Linked DNA regions of Homo sapiens. The protein of the gene in region 6 interacts with the protein of the main gene of each other region in a pairwise test. Each region holds a gene or a part of one and is shown on either strand. Other genes may lie near its edges. The genes, in order: TULP3, ARHGEF15, CCDC33, C22orf23, PROX1 and ESRRG.

Evidence for each region.
Region 1: the proteins of ESRRG (region 6) and TULP3 interact in a two-hybrid assay, tested with the Homo sapiens proteins (one large-scale study listed by BioGRID and IntAct).
Region 2: the proteins of ESRRG (region 6) and ARHGEF15 interact in a two-hybrid assay, tested with the Homo sapiens proteins (one study listed by BioGRID).
Region 3: the proteins of ESRRG (region 6) and CCDC33 interact in a two-hybrid assay, tested with the Homo sapiens proteins (one large-scale study listed by BioGRID).
Region 4: the proteins of ESRRG (region 6) and C22orf23 interact in binary tests that used the Homo sapiens proteins (3 or more experiments, as listed by UniProt).
Region 5: the proteins of ESRRG (region 6) and PROX1 interact in a two-hybrid assay, tested with the Homo sapiens proteins (one study listed by BioGRID).

The regions. Positions count from the first base shown.
Region 1 is NC_000012.12:2,935,891-2,938,764, reverse strand, and holds part of TULP3 (tubby-related protein 3), read right to left. Parts: intron 1,135-2,874; coding exon 1,036-1,134; intron 652-1,035; coding exon 480-651; intron 1-479. UniProt on the Homo sapiens protein: Negative regulator of the Shh signaling transduction pathway: recruited to primary cilia via association with the IFT complex A (IFT-A) and is required for recruitment of G protein-coupled receptor GPR161 to cilia, a promoter of PKA-dependent basal repression machinery in Shh signaling.
Region 2 is NC_000017.11:8,320,241-8,323,011, reverse strand, and holds the end of ARHGEF15 (rho guanine nucleotide exchange factor 15), read right to left. Parts: intron 2,171-2,771; coding exon 2,019-2,170; 3' UTR 501-2,018; downstream 1-500. UniProt on the Homo sapiens protein: Specific GEF for RhoA activation. Does not activate RAC1 or CDC42. Regulates vascular smooth muscle contractility. Negatively regulates excitatory synapse development by suppressing the synapse-promoting activity of EPHB2.
Region 3 is NC_000015.10:74,277,826-74,281,325, reverse strand, and holds part of CCDC33 (coiled-coil domain-containing protein 33), read right to left. Parts: intron 2,208-3,500; exon of another isoform or gene 2,034-2,207; intron 1,364-2,033; coding exon 1,234-1,363; intron 659-1,233; coding exon 525-658; intron 1-524.
Region 4 is NC_000022.11:37,943,602-37,947,101, forward strand, and holds part of C22orf23 (UPF0193 protein EVG1), read right to left. Parts: intron 1,573-3,500; coding exon 1,441-1,572; intron 917-1,440; coding exon 816-916; coding exon of another isoform or gene 714-815; exon of another isoform or gene 646-713; coding exon 574-645; 3' UTR 1-573.
Region 5 is NC_000001.11:214,008,473-214,011,972, reverse strand, and holds part of PROX1 (prospero homeobox protein 1), read right to left. Parts: intron 453-3,500; coding exon 258-452; intron 1-257. UniProt on the Homo sapiens protein: Transcription factor involved in developmental processes such as cell fate determination, gene transcriptional regulation and progenitor cell regulation in a number of organs.
Region 6 is NC_000001.11:216,503,430-216,506,929, forward strand, and holds part of ESRRG (estrogen-related receptor gamma), read right to left. Parts: 3' UTR 1-3,500. UniProt on the Homo sapiens protein: Orphan receptor that acts as a transcription activator in the absence of bound ligand. Binds specifically to an estrogen response element and activates reporter genes controlled by estrogen response elements.

The DNA.
Region 1 (2,874 bases), on a different chromosome or scaffold from region 6:
GTCACCCAGGCTGGAGAGCAGTGATGCAATCTCAGCTCACTGCAGCCTCGACCTCCTGGCTCAAGTGATGCTCCCACCTCAGCCTCCCGGGTAGCTGGGACTACAAGTGCCTGCCACCACGCCCAGCTAATTTTTCTATTTTTTGTAGAGATGGGGTTTCACACCATGTTGCCCAGGCTGGTCTCAAGCGATCTGCCCACCTCGGCCTCCCAAAGTGCTGGGATTACAGACGTGAGCCATGGTGCCCAGCCAACTTCTCTGATTTGCTATAGCATCTCTCTCACACTCCTCTCCCCTCCTCAACACAGTGATTTACAAGTTTTCTCTAAAACTGTAGTTTCATCTTTCCAAAGAAATCCTGTCTCTCCTCCATGATTATCTGCTGACTGTCACTTCCTATCATGTACAGGGAATGTGCATTCCCATCCTGTAAGAGCATCTGTCCTCCTCTTCCCACCCAACCCCTCCTGGAGGCTTACGGTCATTTTTGTGGACTATCTGGAAGTTCTTCACAGACGCCTGAGTGACCCGGCCACGGAAGTTGAGGACATAGGACTGAGTGTCACTGTTCCAGACGGGGGCCTTGTTGTGCAGCTCAACCAGATTTTCCATAGTTCTGTTCTGCCACCTTGAGAGCAAACTGTCATGGTTCTGTCCAAAGGGAAAATCATTACTTTGTACTGAGAACTCCAACTCTACGAGGTAGAAGGTAGAGTAGGAGAATACTTTCTCCATTTCAGAAAGGGTAAACCAGAAGCGAAGAATGAAAGCCAACAATGAAGACAGGTTTTTTTTAAAATTATTCTACATCATCCAGCATTTCTCTTTGTAGAAAAAATGGTTTCAAGGCAATGACTCTGCAACTGCTCTTATCCTGAGGTTTTGGAGGGGCAGCTTTCCTAAAGAAGTGTATGGAGCTATCTCCAGTGTGGGGCTCTGGAAGCTCAATCTTTTTTTTTTTTTTTGTATTAATCTCTGTGTATTGTACTACTGTCTTTTAGAGTCTTTCACTGATTTAAATACATTCTTACTCACGTTTTGTGGCTGATAGGGGATCTGCTTATGATTCAGTGTCATTCCAGGAATGATCACAGACATTTTCCTAGGACCTTTAAATCCAAGTACGTTTGTTTCCTGGAAGATAGGAAAACAAAGCAGAACTTGGAAACAGGAAAAAAATAGAGACCACATTCTTTTATAACATGAGACTTTCTTGGGAATGTAAGATGCTGACAATATCAGCTGTATCAGCCGGGGCAGTGGATCACGCCTATAATCCCAGCACTTTGGGAGGCCGAGGTGGGCAGATAACCTGAGGTCAGGAGTTTGAGACCAGCCTGGCCAACATGGTGAAACCCTGTCTCTACTAAAAATACAAAAATTAGCCAGGCGTGGTGGCAGGCGCCTGTAATCCCAGCTACTCGGGAGGCTGAGGCAGGAGAATTGCTTGAACCCAGGAGGCAGAGGCTGCAGTGAGCCGAGATCACGCCGTTGCACTCCAGCCTGGGCGACAAGAGTGAGACTCTGCCTCAGAAAAAAAAAAAAAAAAAAAAAAAAAAAAAAATCAGGTGTACCAAAAATAATTTTATTACTTTGCTGTAAACAGAATCAAAAACAGGAAAGTAATATTATATCTCTTTATACTTCTCTTTTTTTTTTTGAGACAGAGTCACGCTCTGTCGCCAGGCTGGAGTGCAGTGGCACAATCTCAGCTCACTGCAACCTCCAATCTCCACCTCCTGGGTTCAAGCGATTCCTGTGCCTCAGCCTGGGACTACAGGCGCATGCCACCACGCCTGGCTAATTATTTTTTGTATTTTTAGTAGAGACGGGGTTTCACCAAGTTGGCTAGGATGGTCTCGATCTCCTGACCTCGTGATCTGCCTGCCTCAGCCTCCCAAAGTGCTGGGATTACAGGCGTGAGCCACTGCACCTGGCCTATACCTTCTTTAAACACCTACATTTAAAACAGAATCTCTTGGCTTGAGAGTTTACTCTTAACTATTTTTTTTTTGGGACCAGAGTTTCACTCTTGTTGCCCAGGCTGGAGTATAATGGCACAATCTCAGCTCACCACAACCTCCGCCTCCCGGGTTCAAGCAATTTTCCTGCCTCAGCCTGAGTAGCTGGGATTATAGGCATGCGCCACCACACCCGGCTAATTTTGTATTTTTTTTTTTTTTTTAGTCGAGACGGGGTTTCTCCATGTTGGTCTCGAATTCCCGACCTCAGGTGATCCGCCCATCTTGGCCTCCCAAGGTGCTGTGACTACAGGAGTGAGCCACCACGCCCGGCCTCTTACTCTTGAGTCTTAAATGTGATTTGAGATAACTGTGAACAAACTGTTCAACTTTGTCAGCACCAACACATATTTATTTCCCAGTGAGGGCATAGCACTATATTACATACAGTGAAAATTAGTTGTGGTTAAATAAGGCCTGCACTAGGTATTAAAAATGCCTGTCAAGCCAAGCAGATTATTCTTATTTTATTTTGAGATGGCGTCTTGCTCTGTCACCCAGGCTGGAGTGCAGTGGCACAATCTTGGCTCATTGCAACCTCTGCCTCCTGGGTTCAAGCGATTCTCCTGCCTCAGCCTCCCGAGTAGCTGGGATTACAGGTGCCTGCCACCACGCCTGGCTAATTTTTTTTGTATTTTTAGTAGAGACGGGTTTTTGCCATGTTGGCCAGGCTGGTCTCCACCTCCTGACTTCAGGTGATCCACCGGCCTCGGCCTCCCAAAGTGCTGGGATTACAGGCGTGAGCCACCACGCCTGGCCGATTATTATTATTTTTTAAACAGGGTCTCATGCTGTCGCCCAGGCTAGAGTGCATGGTGTGATCACGGCTCACTGCAGCCTCGACCCTCCTAAG
Region 2 (2,771 bases), on a different chromosome or scaffold from region 6:
TTGCCTCAGCCTCCCGAGGAACTGGGACTATAGGCGCATGCCACTACACCTGGGTAATTTTGTATTTTTTGTAGAGACAGGGTTTCATTATGCTGCCCAGGCTGGTCTCAAACTCCTGAGCTCAAGTGATCTGCCCACCTCGGCCTCCCAAAGTGCTGGGATTACAGGTGCAAGCCACCGTGCCCGGCCCTGACTGCCCTTTTTATCCTTCTTGCTGCATTCTCATCCCCTGCCAAAGCCCCAGGCATTGCCCAGCCTGCAGCAGCCCCCAACCACAGCTGTTGCAAACCCACCACCATCGCCACAACCACCACCACCTGAGATCCCTCAGGAACTGTGAGTGGGCTAACACACTCAGGTCTAGCACATGACCTTCAAGCCCCAGTTCCCAACAGAATTGACCCCTGCTCTGGACCCCTTTCCAAGCAGCCCCATCCCCTTATAAACCATGCTTGGAGACCACTGCTCCTATAAGCACACACTTCCTCAGAGAGCCTCAATACAAATGCACCACTATTTACTGAGGGTTCCCCACACGTCAGGCACCCTGCTAGGGGAGTCTCCAATGTCATGGACATGCCAAATGCCAGTGCTCTTCGCCCTCTGAGTCTCCCGGAGTCCCTGTGCCTCCTGCAGTCAGGGTGACAGTGTCAGTCCTGGGCAAGTTGCTGTGCCTGAGCTGAAGGGGAGGCCTCGTCCCGGGCCTGGGCCCCCCTGCCAGCCACTGTCTGCCTTGCTGTCTCTGTCCCTCGCCTCCTCTGGTATCATGCGAGGCACTGGCTCATCTGGAAGCAGATGCTCTGGATGGGGTTGGGCAGCCACACCCGCTCTCCAATCTCTCCCCACTGTTTGGCCCAGTGTTTCTGTGAGAGGATCAGGACAAAGGCAAGAAAGCCCAGGAGGTTCACTGGCTGGCCTGTGGTCCACAGCTCCCGTTTCTTCACCCAGATGCAGGATCTAATGTGGTTCCAAAGCTCAAGGCTGAGGCTGGCTGGTGGATTATAGTTCAAGTTGGGAGATCTGCAGGCAGGAATTATGGAGGCCAGTGTTTGGGGCAAGGAGAAGGGTCTGCAGACTTCAGGGGCCTCAGGACCCAGCTACTGGCCATCTTCAGTCCCTTGGGCTCCTCTGCCAGGCCGTTGGCTGCTCCATAACATTGCCCTGCAACTGCCACAGAACCCTAGCCTCCAAGAGACCCAAAGCTCAGGGCTCTCATCCCCTGGGTGCCAAGCCACACCCAGCACAGTCTCTTCTGGAGCTCAGACTTAGCATCTTTCTTGGAGCGAATAATAGGAAAAATGGGGGGTAAAGGAAGAAATGGAGCACTCAGTCATTTGTGGGTCAGGAGCACAATCACCACACACACACCACAGTCAGCAGAATGCCTTTCCTGATACATATACACACATATCTACACATGCACATGTACACACACAGATTTTCTGAGACACATACTCTGAATTCTTCTGGAAGAGAAGAACTGGCTTGAGAGGGCACAGGAAGCATCCAGGAATGGAAACTAGTATTTCCCAGACTCAAAAGACAGGACCAGTCATTGCTGCAGAAACAAGCAGGGTGACTACTGGTCTCTTGGGTCCAGATCACCATTTTCTTTGGCTGATTGGCTTCCTGCTCATTCCTGTTCCCAATTTTATCCTACGACTTTATCTCCAATGAGGCCCTTTTTCAACTGCCATGACCTAGATTTGTCTTCCTTGGCCCTGAGCATAGCAGGAATACTCATTGGCCATAGGCTCAGCCAGCTCAGTACCCATTGGCTGCTCTGCACTAAGCCTCTGTCTCCATTGGCCACACATTCAAGGCATCCTCATTCATTCTTATTGCTGTGGGTTCAGGCGGCCGTTTTCATTGGCTGCTCTGTCCTGAAGCTCGATCTCTATGGTTGCCACGAGAGGTAGTATCTCCACTGACAGTGAATCCAATGGATGAATGGGCTTTGTTCTCTCCGTGCCACACTGGTAGGTGTCTCCCAACATGTGCCCCCTCCTCAGCCTGCATTAGGGTGGGGGGGCATTGGGGGTGCCTGAAGAAGATCCAACAGCCTCGAGAAGCCTCTGGTTCTGGCGAAGGTGCCTCCTCCTTTCGTGTTCCCCTGTGACTTCACACACCAGCTGGGCAGGGAAGGCCCCAGGAAGCCCCTTCAGCCAACCTGGGGGAAGAGAGACAGAGGCTCCAATGAGGTGGGGGCAGGGAGCAGGTGAGGAGGCAAAGGGGGCCTCGTGGGGTCTCAGGCCTTCAGGGTCATTGTAGGTGTGGGAATTCATGGACAAGCCTGGAGCATCGGTAGAAAGGGCATCAGAAGTGGAGGTGACAGCAGCTCGGAGAGAGTCTGGGCTGCTCTTCCGTCAAGCCCTGCAGTGGCTGCTCATGTCTCTTGGAGTAAGAGGTGGAGTCCTTGCAGAGACCTGTCAGGTCCTGCGTGATCCCATCCCTGCCACTTCTATGACCTCATTTGCTTCTCCCCCTTTCTCTCTCCTGCTAGTCACACTGGCCTCCTTACAGTTCCTCAGTCACACACCAGCCGCAGGGCCTTTGCACTGCCTGCTGCCTCCAGCTGGGACACTCTTCCCCCAGACACCATGGGCCTAAATTAGCTCCATCAAGCTTCATGTTGCCTTCTCAGTGAGGTCCACCTCGGCCTCCCTATTGAAAATTTCAGTCTGCCCAACCCTGGAACTCCTGACCTTCTTTGCTCTGCTCACTTTTTTTTTTTTCCATAACACTCATAACCTTCACATGTACTTTATAAT
Region 3 (3,500 bases), on a different chromosome or scaffold from region 6:
ACACTTTCAGTAGTTTTCCCATGGTCATGTTAGCTGGTATGTGGTGGAACCAGAATTTGGACCCAGACAGTCTGGCTCTAGAGCCTGAGCTCTGAACTCTCTTGTTATACACAGAGATTGTGTACTTGGCATGCTTCTCCTGTGTTACAGACGAGGACTCTTGTGGTTCAGTAATGTGCCTGAATTTCCACAGTGAGGATTTGAACTGTGGTTCAAATCAGGGTCTGGCTGGCTGAAAGCCTGAACTCTTGCACTGTCTCACAGGGTCACCCTGTACTTGTCTCCCAAGTTGCTCAGGGGCAATTTCTCTGGCTTGGTTCGTCATAGTCCCAGAGGCAAGACTGGCTTCTGGGGTTCCAGGGAGCTCCTCACTTCTAGACTGGGTGACTTCCCTGGTGGGTGCCTTGACAGAAGCTTCTGGAGAAGCCAAATTCTCCTATGGAGGTGTGGTGAGGTGGGGCAGGGTGAGGCAGGGTGGGGCCAGGTGGGCACGCTAGGGGCCCAGTTCAGGGCAGGGGGCTCACCATGATGGGGAGCCGCTCCACGTGAAGCCCGTCCAAGCCTTTCCCTGTCAGCATCTTCTGGTACAAACGGCTCTTTAGCGGCAACACAGAGATGCCCAGGGGCTGGTTGAGGGTCCACGGCTGGCTGCCTTTCACTGTGGGGGAAGGATCAACTAGGGCTCCTGCCAAAGCCCCCACCTCGGCCCCATCCTTTAATACCTGACATCCAGTCCTCCTGTCTCCCGCTGCCTGCTTTCCTGCCTCCTGGCCTTTCCCTGCACATACATCCTCTTCTCATCTTCAGGGCTTTGTGAACTCAAAGCCAACTCTAAACATACTCTGTGTGTCTGGGAATTTATATACATCAGCCTCATCTCTACCCTTTGGGGGCTTCAATCCCACAGTGCAGAAAACTGTGGATCAGCTGGTCTCTGAAGCCCATCTCCCTCACCCCTCTCTGTGAGTTCCGAGGGCTCCAGCCCTCCCCCATCACTGATGGGTGCAATAAAACAAAGCTTGGGGCCAAGACCTAGTATGGGACAGGCCCACGTGTCCTGGCCTGTGGACAAGGAACGCAGCCAGCTCTCCTCTGCCTGCATTAGGAAGCCGCCTGGACACCTGGGAACCATCCATCCCTGTGGGAGGCAGAGGTGGGATGGTCTGAACACCCTTTCATAATACAGATCTCCTGAGGCATGGCTGCCCTGGCGAGGCACCAGGGGTCACGTACTTGAAGTTGAGGAGTAGTACTCCAGCACCAGGGCTGTGTCTTCTGAGAAGCTGGTAGCTCCATCTCGGCCTTGGAAGAGGAAGGACTGATTCCACAGGGGCTGCTCTGGGGGTCCCCCAGGCTTGGACAGCTGGAGGGAGAGGGTAGGAGCAGGTGGTGGGGGCCACAGCTTCTCCCAAATCAAGGCATACACAGATATTTGGTTTTGTGTATCTAGATTTGTCACAAATGTTTCTCCCAACTATAAAAGCAAGCTGGCTGGGCACAGTGGCTCACGCCTGTAATTCCAGCACTTCGGGAGGCCAAGGCAAGTGGATCACTTGAGGTCAGGAGTTCAAGACCAGCCTGGCCAACATGGCAAAACCCTGTCTCTACTAAAAATACAAAAATTAGCTAGGTGTGGTGGGGGACTCCTGTAATCCCAGCTACCCAGGAGGCTGAGGCAGGAGAACTGCTTGAACCCGGGGGGGCAGAGGTTGCCCTGAGATGAGATTGCGCCACTGTACTCCAGCCTGGGTGACAGAGCGAAACTCCGTCTCTAAATAAATAAAATAAATAAATAAATAAATAAACAAATAAATGCAGCACACACCTAATAAATACATTTAGGAAAATGCAGAAAAATAGGAAGAAGAAAAACAGCTCCTGTGTTCCTATGATAAACACAATAATTCATAAAACTGTGCTTCTTCCTAGTTTTTTTCTGTGTATATTTTGTGTATAATCACCATTCTAGCATCCTGCATTTTTCATTTGCCAGTAAAACCTAAGCAGATCCAAAGTCACAGAAAGCTCATTACCCATGACTTGAGTAACTTCAGGATATGAAGTTCATGTCCAAGTGCCCTGATTTCTTCCTTCCCATTTTTCCCTGTAATAACACTGCATTGAACGTTCTCTGCTACATATCTTCATGTCGCAAATTACTTCCTTAGTACAACTACCTAAAATGGAATTGCTGGGTTATAGGACATGTGTATTTTAGGACACCTCATTCATTATTGGTAAACTGTTTTCCTAAAGTGTTGTATCTGTGTTCACACCCATGGCTGGTGGTGTCACAGATGCCAAGTTAGACATGACCTCTGTCTGTGTCACCAGCCCCTCTCTTTCCCACACAGTTTCCCCAGCCCCTTGCAGAGGCCAAGACATCTCTGCAGACTACAGAGGCTCCGTGTGCCCGCAGTGTGGGCCAGTGGGCACTCGGGGGACTTGATGGCACCCTAGGTCAGCAGTTAGGGCACACACATGGGTATGATTTAAACAATGAAACAAGACAGTATTAACTGTAGCACTGCCCAATAAGAGAGCTATATGAAATATTCCCATGGGTGGTCAGAAAAGCCTCCTTAAAGGAAGCAGAACCAGAGAAAGGCTCTGAAGGAAGGTCTGGCTGGGTGAAGAGAGGGATAAAGGTCTTCAGGATGGGAAAACAGCACAATCAAAAATGTGGAGTGGCACTGAGCACACCCTGTGCAGAGGACGCCTGAAATGAGGAGAGACTCCAGGGGGAGGCCCAGCATCTGCCAAGGCCAGAAGGTGGGAGATGGGAGATGGCCATCGGCCCATAACTCCCAGCAGGCAGCCCTGCAGGGTCCCAGCACAGGGCGGGGCTGCGGGTCGTTGCTACAGACCCACCAAGTGGCTGCCTTGCCTCTGTTCCCCAGCCAGGGGCTGTCAGCAACAGTAGCAGCCGCTCCCACCTCCTGCTCCCCCACAGGAATCAGTCATTGCTCGAAAAGGTCAGCACAAATGCACTGCGGCTCCAGGAGTTATTGATGCAGGATCATGAAATATCAGTGTAGGTCCACTTCCCCACAGTGGCAGGGTGCTGATGACGGTCACACTAATGGGCCTGGTTTGTCCAGGCCCAGCCCAAGGCTCAGCTGTGTCTGCCCCTGCCCCTGGGGAGATGGGTTGCAGTCACTGCAGGGCTAGGGTGCCCTGGACACCTGAACAGAGACTGCAATGATGGGAACATCCCACTTCTTATGGGAGCTTGGCCAACAGGTCCGGTGAGAGAAGTTGGTTCTGACTTCTGTGGGGCTTGGGAGTGATCTTTCAAGATTGATCCCCAAACCATGTCCCTCCCAGAGTCACCCCATTCTCCTGGGTGCAGGAGGGTCCACATGGCTGGGACTGTCTGCCAGGCATTGGGGCACCTGTGACTCAGTCCCCTGCCGTCCATACCTTGCTCCTACCCTGGAAGAGGGTTATTTAGTAGACGCTAGCTGCCCTTTCTGGGACCTATTCATGTGTCTAAATGG
Region 4 (3,500 bases), on a different chromosome or scaffold from region 6:
CCAAGAGGTTGGTTCCCGTTGCCACTTGAAATATGCAAACAGGTAGCTAGAAACCATCTGGGCTTGACAAAGTCTAATGCCTTGAACAAATAAGCTTATCCCTCTGAAAACAAAATGGTGCTTGTAATGACCCACGTTAAATATGTTTTATTGGCCAGTTAATCATTGTGGTTGAATACTTGCCTAAGGCGGTAAGAAATCAAATAAGTAAATCCTAAAACAGGAAGAAAGGAATCATATTCATTCCTGAATTCAGAAAACTAAATGAACAGGCCACAGGTCAGAAGTGGTGGGAAGCAGGCCCAGTGGATACCTTTAGACACATGTCCTAGTAGGGATGCTCGGGCTTTGCTTCTCTGCGGACGGGGCTGTGAGTCTCAGAGGCTCCATCTGCATTCCGGGGCAGGGGCTAGGCTGCTGAGTATGCCTTGGGGTACTGCAGGGCAGTGCTATGCCACCACCTGACGTGGCAGAAGGCTGGTAGGATGGGCTGGCCTGAGGATGGCCCTGCCTGGCAGAGGAGTGGACTCCAGTGGTCGAGCTTGGGCTACCCTGCCCGTCTCTGGAGACAGATTAAGTGGTGGCAAGACCCTTCCTAAGTTCCTCACTCCTTCTGTGGTCAATGTCTTCCATTTCCCGGAGTTTCTGCAAAGGGCATCAGGGAAAGCAGGTGTATCAGGGCTAGGAACCTGAGGAGCTGTCACAGCAGTGAGCTAGAGCCTGACCCCTGAACCCTGCCACAGCAGACCCTGTATTTCCATTCGCACTTGGCGCTGGGCCCTTCCCCTCCCCACTTTCCTGGTTGTTTCTCCTACCTGGGAGATTTCAGCAAGGATGATTCCTCGGTACTGTTTGCCCTGTCCCAGGGCCTCCATGTCAGCCAGGAATTCTTTCCTCTCCTGGATTTCCTTCACCACTGGACAGAGGAGAGGGCTGTCAGGTTCCCATGAGGGATGCAGGCAGCGGGTTGCCTCTCTTGAGGAGAGGAAGTGGTTCTATTGTCAAATAGTGTTTCTAGGCCGGGCGCGGTGGCTCACGCCTATAATCCCAGCACTTTGGGAGGCCAAGGCAGGTGGATCACGAGGTCAGGAGTTCGAGACCAGCCTGACCAACATGGTGAAACCCCGTGTCTACTAAAAATACAAAAATTAGCCAGGCATGGTGGCGGGCGCTGGTAATCCCAGCTACTCAGGTGGCTGAGGCAGGAGGGATTGCTTGAACCTGGGAAGTGGAGGCTGCAGTGAGCCCAGATCACGCCACTGCACTCTAGCCTGGGCAATAAGAGCAAGACTGTCTCAAAATAAATAAATAAATAAATAAATAGTGTTTCTCACTTGTTGGCCCTTGGCCCTCAGGGATCCCCTGACTGCTCCATCCAATTCTGGGCCCCCTCCTCACATTACCCCCACCCCCAGCATGACTGGTCCGTCGGAGTCTTACGCTCTTCAAATCGGTCTAGCTCAGGGGCTGGAGCCTTCTGTCGTGCAGGAGGGGCCTTTCTTTTCCGTTCCTCCATGTCCTTCCCTGTGGCAAAGATATTTTGGAGTCTTTGTTTCTCCTTCTCCAAATCCCCTGTAGGGCCAAAAAGAAATGGCCTAGTTAGGCTGTAAAGGGTGCCCTTATTCATGGTCTGTGTTCCCAAGTGCACGTGCTTGCTGCAGGGTGCCTGGTCATGCAGACAGGGCTTCCGTACACCTGCTGCTACCCTGGGTTCTCCTGAGCAATACTGTACTGTCAAGAGAGGCAGGAAGAGGTGGAAAGAACCAAGAAAAGAGTTTGGGTATGGTCTGTAATTCCAACACTTTGGGAGGCTGAGGTGGGAGGATTGCTTAGGACCAGGAGTTCAAGACCAGCCTAATGGATGTAGTGAGACCCCCATCTCTTTTTTTCTTCTTTTTTTTTTTTTTTTTTGAGACAAGGTCTGACTCTGTCGCCCAGACTGGAGTGCAGTGATACAATTTCGGCTCACTGCAACCTCTCGGGCTCAAGTCATCCTCCCACCTCAGCCTCCCGAGTAGCTGGGACTACAGGTGGACGTCATCGTGCCCAGCTAATTTTTGTATTTTTTTTTTTTTAGTAGAGATGGAGTTTTGCCATGTTGCCCAGGCTGGTCTCAAACACATGAGCTCAAACGATCTGCCAGCCTCGGCCTCCCAAAGTGCTGGAATTACAGGCATGAGCCATCACGCCTGACCGATATCCTATCTCTAAAAAAAAAAAAAAAAAAAAAGTCCAGGCACGGTGGCTCACACCTGTAATCCTAGCACTTTGGGAGGCTGAGGCAGGCAAATCATGAGGTCAGGAGTTCGAGACCAGCCCAGCCAACATGGTGAAACCCCATCTCTACTAAAAATACAAAAAATTAGCTGGGCATGGGCCGGGCGCGGTAGCTCATGCCTGTAATCCCAGCACTTTGGGAGGCCGAGGTGGGCGGATCACGAGGTCAGGAGATCAAGACCATCCTGGCTAACACGGTGAGACCCCACCTCTACTAAAAATACAAAAAAATTAGCCCGGCGTGATGGCAGGTGCCTGTAGTCCCAGCTACTCGGGAGGCTGAGGCAGGAGAATGGCGTGAACCTGGGAGGTGGAGCTTGCAGTGAGCCGAGATGGTGCCACTGCACTCCAGCCTGGGCGACAGAGCAAGACTCAGTCTCAAAAAAAAAAAAAATTAGCTGGGCAGGGCATGGTGATGGTGCCTGTAATCCTAGCTACTTGGGAGGCTGAGGCATGAGAATTGCCTGAACCCAGGAGGTGGAGGTTGCAGTGAGCCGAGATCGTGCCACTGTACTCCAGCCTGGGTGACAGCGCGAGACTCCGTCTCAAAAAAAGCTGGGTGTGGGGAACACCTGTGGTCCCAGCTATTCTGGAGACTGAGGCAGGAGGATTGCTTGAGCTCAGGAGTTCTGGCTGCAGTGAGCTATGATCATGCCACTGTATTACAGAATGGGTGACAGAATGAGAGCGACACTGTCTCAAAAAAAAAAAAAAAAAAAGGCCGGGAGCGGTCGTTTGTGCCTGTAATCCCAACACTTTGGGAGGCCAGGGTGGGCGGATCACTTGAGGCCAGGAGTTCAAGACCAGCCTGGCCAACATGGTGAATCCCCATCTCTACTAAAAAAATTAACTGGACATGGTGGTGGACACTTGTAATCCCAGCTACTCAGGAGGCTGACACATGAGAATTGCTTGAACCCGGGAGGCGGAGGTTACAGTGAGCCGAGATAGCACCACTGCACTCCAACCTGGGCACAGAGTAAGGCTCTGTCTTTAAAAAAAAAAAAAAAAAAAAAGTTTTGTCAAAACTTAGCAGAGCAAGGCTAAGAAAGCTCAGGAACCTGGGGCCTCGGCGATGCCTGTAGTGGCAACTTATGTATAGGGGCTGCAGGGAGAGGTTAGGCTGTGGCATTGAGCCCTGATAGCCCCTATCATCAGGAAGTGGTAGATTTCAGTTAATCCTGAGTTCTGGAAAAATAAAAAAAAAAGGACCATCTGACTGG
Region 5 (3,500 bases), 2.5 Mb from region 6:
TTCCCTTTTCTGTGGCCAAATGAGTCTTCCACACAAGCTGAAAAGCCAGGGAATGGGGAAAAAATGGCAGTGGGTCAGAGCCTCATGATTCCAATGGGGACTATGGAAGCTCCTCATCACAGCTCTACCTGTTACTCTATTGGGGGATGCTTGTATGCGAAACCAACACAAAAACAGATTTGGGTACATTTCTAAAGAAAATAAATTTTTTAAAAAAGGAAAAGGGAGATGACCAAAAAATAAAGATTAGTTCCTACCTCAAAGTCATTTGCTTTATTGTAGTGCATGTTCAGAGCCCTGTACAGCTCACAGTCTCTGGTTATAGACAGCTCTTCAGTACTGGTGACCCCATCGTTGATGGCTTGACGTGCGTACTTCTCCATCTGAATGTAGTAAAACTCACGGAAATTGCTAAACCACTTGATGAGCTGAGAGGTAATGCATCTGTTGAACTGTTAAATTTAAATGTTGAAAAGGATAAGAACATTGCCATTTTCTTCATTTATTTTTTTAAGTGTCTGAAGCATTTTTAATGTTCCCGTCCCTTCTTTACTTGGAAAGATACGTATTTAACTCCACCAAAATGGTGGCAAGAGAGGCAAGAGGAAGAATATACTTACAAGAAATTATAAAAACCTGTCAGTAATGGAAATCATATCACAACCCTCTACCTTTCAAGTGGAAAAGTCACATTCTAAATCAGACTTTCCTTAAGCCGAACATCTTTATTTTTAACCATTGTTCTTCATCTTTCAGTAGAACAACTTGCATTTATATACTTCTTATGGACATTCATTGAAGCCATAGAATCCTGGAAGTGTTGTTACTCCCATGTACCAGAGGTGATGTGCCACATGACTCTACCACTAGTTTGATATACTTTTTTTTTTTAAGTGAGGATTTGTATCACCGCATTACAGCCCCCTTCAATGCAGACAAATGGCCTTCCCACAAAATGGGAGGAGTTGGCATTTGCTTATTTTTTTGGCAATGAGTGATTCCCATGTCCATCCAACTGTGATTCCACTTAATGTTTGCCCACGGCATTCATGTCTGGTGAGGTCTGGTCAGCTCCTGGTGCCTGTTCACCTGCTTCCTGAAGCCAGCATTGGATAAGACCCATGTCCCCCTCCCTTGGTATCTCTGCCATTTGGGAGGCATGGTTAGGACACAGTACACAGATGGCATAGACAGGAGCTTTATTACATTTTTTTAAATGCCAAGTTACTATAACATGGTTAGGCCTTAAAACTTTGTTTACCAAGGTTTCCTGATGACCTTTGAAATGAAGATGTCTTTCTGGATGCACTGCAAATGATACCATCCTTATTGACAGTCCTCTGCTCACGTAAAGGACAGATGAGTCTCAACTTGCCAAGTCAAAACCAATAAATCCATAGCTCTATATCAGGCGGGCTGACAGACAACCCCCTGCCTTTTGTCATCACAGGCATCCCCTTCCCTGGGCCCCCAGAAAAAGATGTACATTCATCAAAAATCAACAAAGAGCACTTATCAAACACAGGCCATGAGAACATCCAGACTCCAACAAGATGACAGCTAAAGTGTGTATTGGGGCTCTAATTACTACACAGAAAGTTGTTTCTATACTAGCAAAGATAATAAATGAATGAAAATTTATGGCAGAGAATGGAAGTCACAAGGAAACAGAAGCAGAGAGACTGGTGTTTCTCCCAAAAGGCCAACTTGCATCATAATTGCCATGGAGTTGCAAGGGCCCTTACAGATAATTGACCAGAAAATGATTAAGTCATCAGCAAATCGCTTCTGCTTGCAAGAGTTCAAACATGTACTTAACCTATCCAAGAATTATATTTTCACTCTGTGTGTCTGCTCTGTCTCTATTCAGCCTCGCGGGGAACCCGATTAAAAAGACAACTGAAGGACCCCCATTATCTGATCTTCTGGTTGCCGATTTCAATAGAACTTAAACCCATTACGATTTGCTGAACTTGGAGTTCTTTCCATTTTATCTCAGCAGTAAAATACACTGTCCAAATTTCCAGACACTGAGATAAGGACTACAGGCCCCCGTGACGGCTTACTGTTCCTTTTTAATTCTTTTAGAATAAGAAACAAAACATTACAAAATGATAGCAGGCTGTGCACTGGGGAATGAAAATTGCTTTGACATGGAGATTAGGCTTCTGCATTGTTACAAGACATTGTCTCATATGGACAAGAGTACTGTAGAGGAAAAAAATAGAAGGGTATTTTTTTTCTAGAATGGTCACGAATGACCTAATGGGGAGGACAAAAAAGTAAGTGCACTTGCCATTATTTACGAATGGGACATAAAGGGAGATTTAAAGCTTATTGTTGGAGAATGGAAATACCAGAGAGAAAGAATGGACAAAAACAACAGACTCCCCAAACATGAGGCAAGCGAAATGACCAGCCCAACAGCCTAAGGAACAGGGTTTCCCTCCAGGAGAAGTGAACTAAAATTTGTTCAGTTTTAGTCGCCGGCTAAAAGCAAAAGCAAGCCCCCGCTTTTCTAGATATTCACACTGGGGGAGAAAAAGTATTAAACTTTAAAGAGTTAATTTCCCTCATTCTGTAGTGGCTTACAAGAAAAGGATCAATTGTTCTATAAAGGAAAGCTCTGTAGTGTGTTAATGTGTTACTGCAAAAACTAATCGCTACAATAAAGAGGCTGTGTTTCCACAGTGTACGAGTCTCTGTGACTTTGATTAATGCTTCCCACGGGACATCTCAGCCTCAATATGGGCTGAAGAAACTTCCTAAATATTCAATGAGCATGGTCAAAAGATGTATAAAACAAATCAATCTGACACCTTAATCTGGCTAGGCAGCAGTTGACTCAAGGGGTGGAGGGAATGAGATACATCATTTAACACTGCCGGCTTGAAAAGCTGTGAGCGTCTGTTCTTCAAAGCTAAAATGACACTGAATCTGCTGTACTTAGTGGTCTAAGAGTTATTAGTTTGTACATTAAAATCAGCACCCAGTAGTGAACAGGGAGCTGGTGCGGCCCATCGATCCCTGGCAGCTCTCTCACATTTGTCCACTTGTCCTTCTCAAAGGATTTGTAGCCCCGATGAGCTGAGCTTTTTGTTTGGCTAAATGTCATTATGAGGGAATTAAGTTGGCTCTCTGTGAGAACATAGAACTTTGTTTAGATTCTTGCTCTAGGAGTTAAACTAGGTCGGCCCTGGTTTCATCCTTCATATACATCACCCCTGTAGAAGAAGAACTCTCGCCATGCCAACATCTCTGAATTGTATGATTTCCCTCTACCTCTTTCGTTCCAAGGTAATTGAAAAGCATTTACCTCTTACCCAGGTGGAAGTCATTTGTGGAGAGTTAAGCACTGTGTCCATTCCTAAGGAGAAATACAAAGGAGTGGGCACCACTTTGGCATGACTCACCTTCTAGAGCAAGTCAGAGGATTTACCCCATCTAGCTCTATCCTCCAAGTGTGGCTTTGATGGACCATTACGTTATACCATATTCAG
Region 6 (3,500 bases):
GGTACACATCACAAAAATATACAATTGATTGCTTTACAGATGTGAAGCCCATCTACAGCTATAGACATGGTTTTATTATTATTATTATTATTTTTACTACTGGCTATAATGCAACTCCTGGATTATTATAAGCAGTTTAAATTTTTTGTCCTTTTACGATCTTTGCACATAAGACTGCCATAAAATGTTTTCCTAGGCAGGTAAACAGAGACGCTTAAATAATTAAAATACAATCACCAACACCCATTTTCTCTTCTATAAGAAAAATAGCAGTTTTAAATTTTTTATATCTTTTATGTTATCATTTAAATGCAAAATAGTGGAATAAATACAACAATCTGATCTGATTGAAACACAAGTGTAACTACAAGGAGTCACACAATCATATTGCTTTAAATAAGAACGAACCTAAAAGAAGCAAAATTAAAATTAAAATCATATGGCTAAAACATACACCTTTATAACTTTCCAAAACTTCACATTAAGTAAATGGTCTTGCTTGAAACTTGAGAAGACTTCCCTCTAGTGAGGTTTAAGATGAGCATTTACCCTAAAGCCCGTGCAGTTCTTTTTAAATCCACGTTTTAGTTTTATTTCCTATTTGTGAGATACTTACTCTTTTGTAATGCTGAGAGTTACTTAAACTGAAAACTAAAAAATTGTATCTCATTCTTTGAACATATCTCCATCTCAGGTTTTCAGTTGGTTGGCTCTTACTTCTGAAGCCCAAGTACTTTAATGTGATACAGTGAAAACAATGTATATATTGTATATATTTTATTTATATATAGTGTAGTTGAATAGTAGCAACTTAAACCCTGCACAAACTTTCTGGAAAATAATCTTTTTAAACACTTACATATATAAATAATCTTATAGAATCAGCACCTTTTTTCCCAGGAGTTGTATTTTCTGTTGTTATTTTTAAAGGGATGTGCCAATTTCTGAACTCCTATCACAGCTATAAATTTCAAGTTATTGACCATCTGAATGAATTGCTAATGATGATTTATCTAGAATCACACTACAGTCACTTCTCTACTGAGAAACCACAATCTACAATATAGTCCCATATAGCTAATGATAGATACACAGTATTCCTAGCACTGGGTTGATGTTTCATCAACCCAAGGTATTTTGTTTAAAGCACACAAAGTAGCAATAGTTTTGGAAACGAATCTGCACCAAAAAGTTTTGCAACAACACAGAGCGAGTTAATAACAACATCTGAGAGATGATTGAGTGAAAGCCATATATACAGCATTTAAAAATTAGACTTATCTATATTCTTGAAATATTCAAAGTTTTATTTCTAAGCTATACATTGGTATTCTATAATAAACCATTAGAGAAATTATTCCTTGTTTTGAAAATATTATTATGATTTTGATGTGTATCTGTTCATAATGAATACTTGTTTGGAGTTTCAATCTCTTAATTATTATTAGGAAGAACCTTATTACTGGTAAGGAATAGAATATACTACTGTAGTCTCCTGAGGAATTGTACATCCAATATTGTCTCTAATTCTACCCTGTGTCTAAAAGCACACACCACAAGAATCCAAACACCACAAGAACAAGACAACAGTCTTTGAATGCAACATAAAATTCAGAAAAGCACAGCAAACATGAAACATTGAAAAGCTGAACTACATTTCTTTTGTTTGTTAGGATTACAATTTTAATTACATCTGTGTACATAGAATAAGACTGTTCACATAATACAGGGAGCAGCTACTAACACTGGTCCATTGGTATAGCATTTGATGGAGGTTACTGTTTATTGGTTATTCAGCGACTGTAGATTTCGGGGCATCTAATTGATTTCTTCATTAGATTACACCTCTTAACAGTCTGGAACCTGACTTGACTTTCATGCTGTGACAATACTGGTTGAAAAGCACATATATTGGCTTAGCTCTTGGTAAAAACTGCAGATTAATTTAAACGAACATTCCTAAATGAATAAACTTATATGGATTAGGTTTTAGAATTTGGTCAGGCATTTTCTGTCTTTGATGATTTTTTTTTTTAATTCTGGCATTTGCCTTATTGCCTCTTAAATGAATACTGGCTCACAGCTCCTTCTGAGGCAAGGTCTGTGACTTTGCAAACAGGCAGTATCACATTCCTAACCACCATGGCAGCTAGAAATCATATGGCAATTGTACCTCCCAAGTAGAGAGGTGCACTCCTGACAATTCTACGGATCTATATCTCATGTGCAGTGCTTATATATGTGACTACTCAGAGTCACTGTAGGTGTAATCTCATCCTTTGTGTCAGTGAACATTTAGGTAAACTGGAGCTCATGTTAAGAAATTGATGTTTGGGACCAGACTGGCACACAACATAAATTGCATCCGTGATAATATGCACCTTCCCTTCAACTATTGCTTGAGTAAGTTAAATTCCCATATTAATAAATGGCTGAAAAGTGGTAAAGCTGGTACAAAAAAATCTCCATTTGTAAGAAGAAACAAAACATTTTTAAAAATCTTCCTTCAGGATTCATTTGTCCTTCATTATTGTTCGTAATTGTTCAAAGCCAGCACAAAATTGCAGTATTCTTATTTCTCTTTAGTATTGCATGAATGAATAAAGCTTAAACTATTCCCTGAAAAAGTTACATAGTAGCTAAACTAACAAATACCTGGAAGACTTGAAAAAACAATTAAGGAATCAAATGGCTGTAACTGATCTAGATGGAAAAGCAATGATAAGAAGCAGCCGATGCAACGTTGCTTAAGTTGTCTAATTAGAGGCTGCTCCCATGAAATCTAATACTGCACTCAGTCAATTTGTATATGTTGCACTGTACTTTTAGGAACGTTGGTTCTCTCTCTTTGATTCCTTAGTCATTGGGGACAGTATGGTTCACAATAAGTTCACTGGCATCCATATTATGGATCTCCATCCTTTGGCAGGGCTGGCTTCCATCTCTCTTCAGTTAGAGACCTCTTTTAAAAGTTCAGCAGCAGAAGGAAGAAAAAGAAAGATGGAAAGAAGGTCAAGAGGAAAGGAAAGGAAAGGGAAAAGGAAAGGGAAAAAGGAAAGAAAGGGAAAGGAAAGGGGGAAGGGAGGATTTTTTTTTAAACTAAAGCTATTTCAAATTTAGAAAAAAGGGGAAGGATGAGAAAAGAGAGGAATGAGAGTAGGTAAAGAAAAGAAAGAAGGCAGGCAGACGGGAAGAAAATAAAGGAGAATGGGAACTAGGAATGAAAGAAGCAAAGAAATAAGGGAGGTGAAAGAAGAAAAGGAGAAAAAATAAAGAGAAAGAGAAATGTGGGAAGAAAGAGGAAAGAAGATGATGGAGAAAGTAGAAAGAAACTCATCAGGAACCTATGGAGGAATCTGAAAGCTGCTTCATAGTCTTGCTGCTAAATTATCAGTGCAGTCTGTTGATTTTTGATGTTGTTAACTAAACTCTAAGTTTCTTCGACATCACTCTTGGGTTTATTTTCCCTTTTTCAACATGAAGGATGGGAAGGCCCAGGG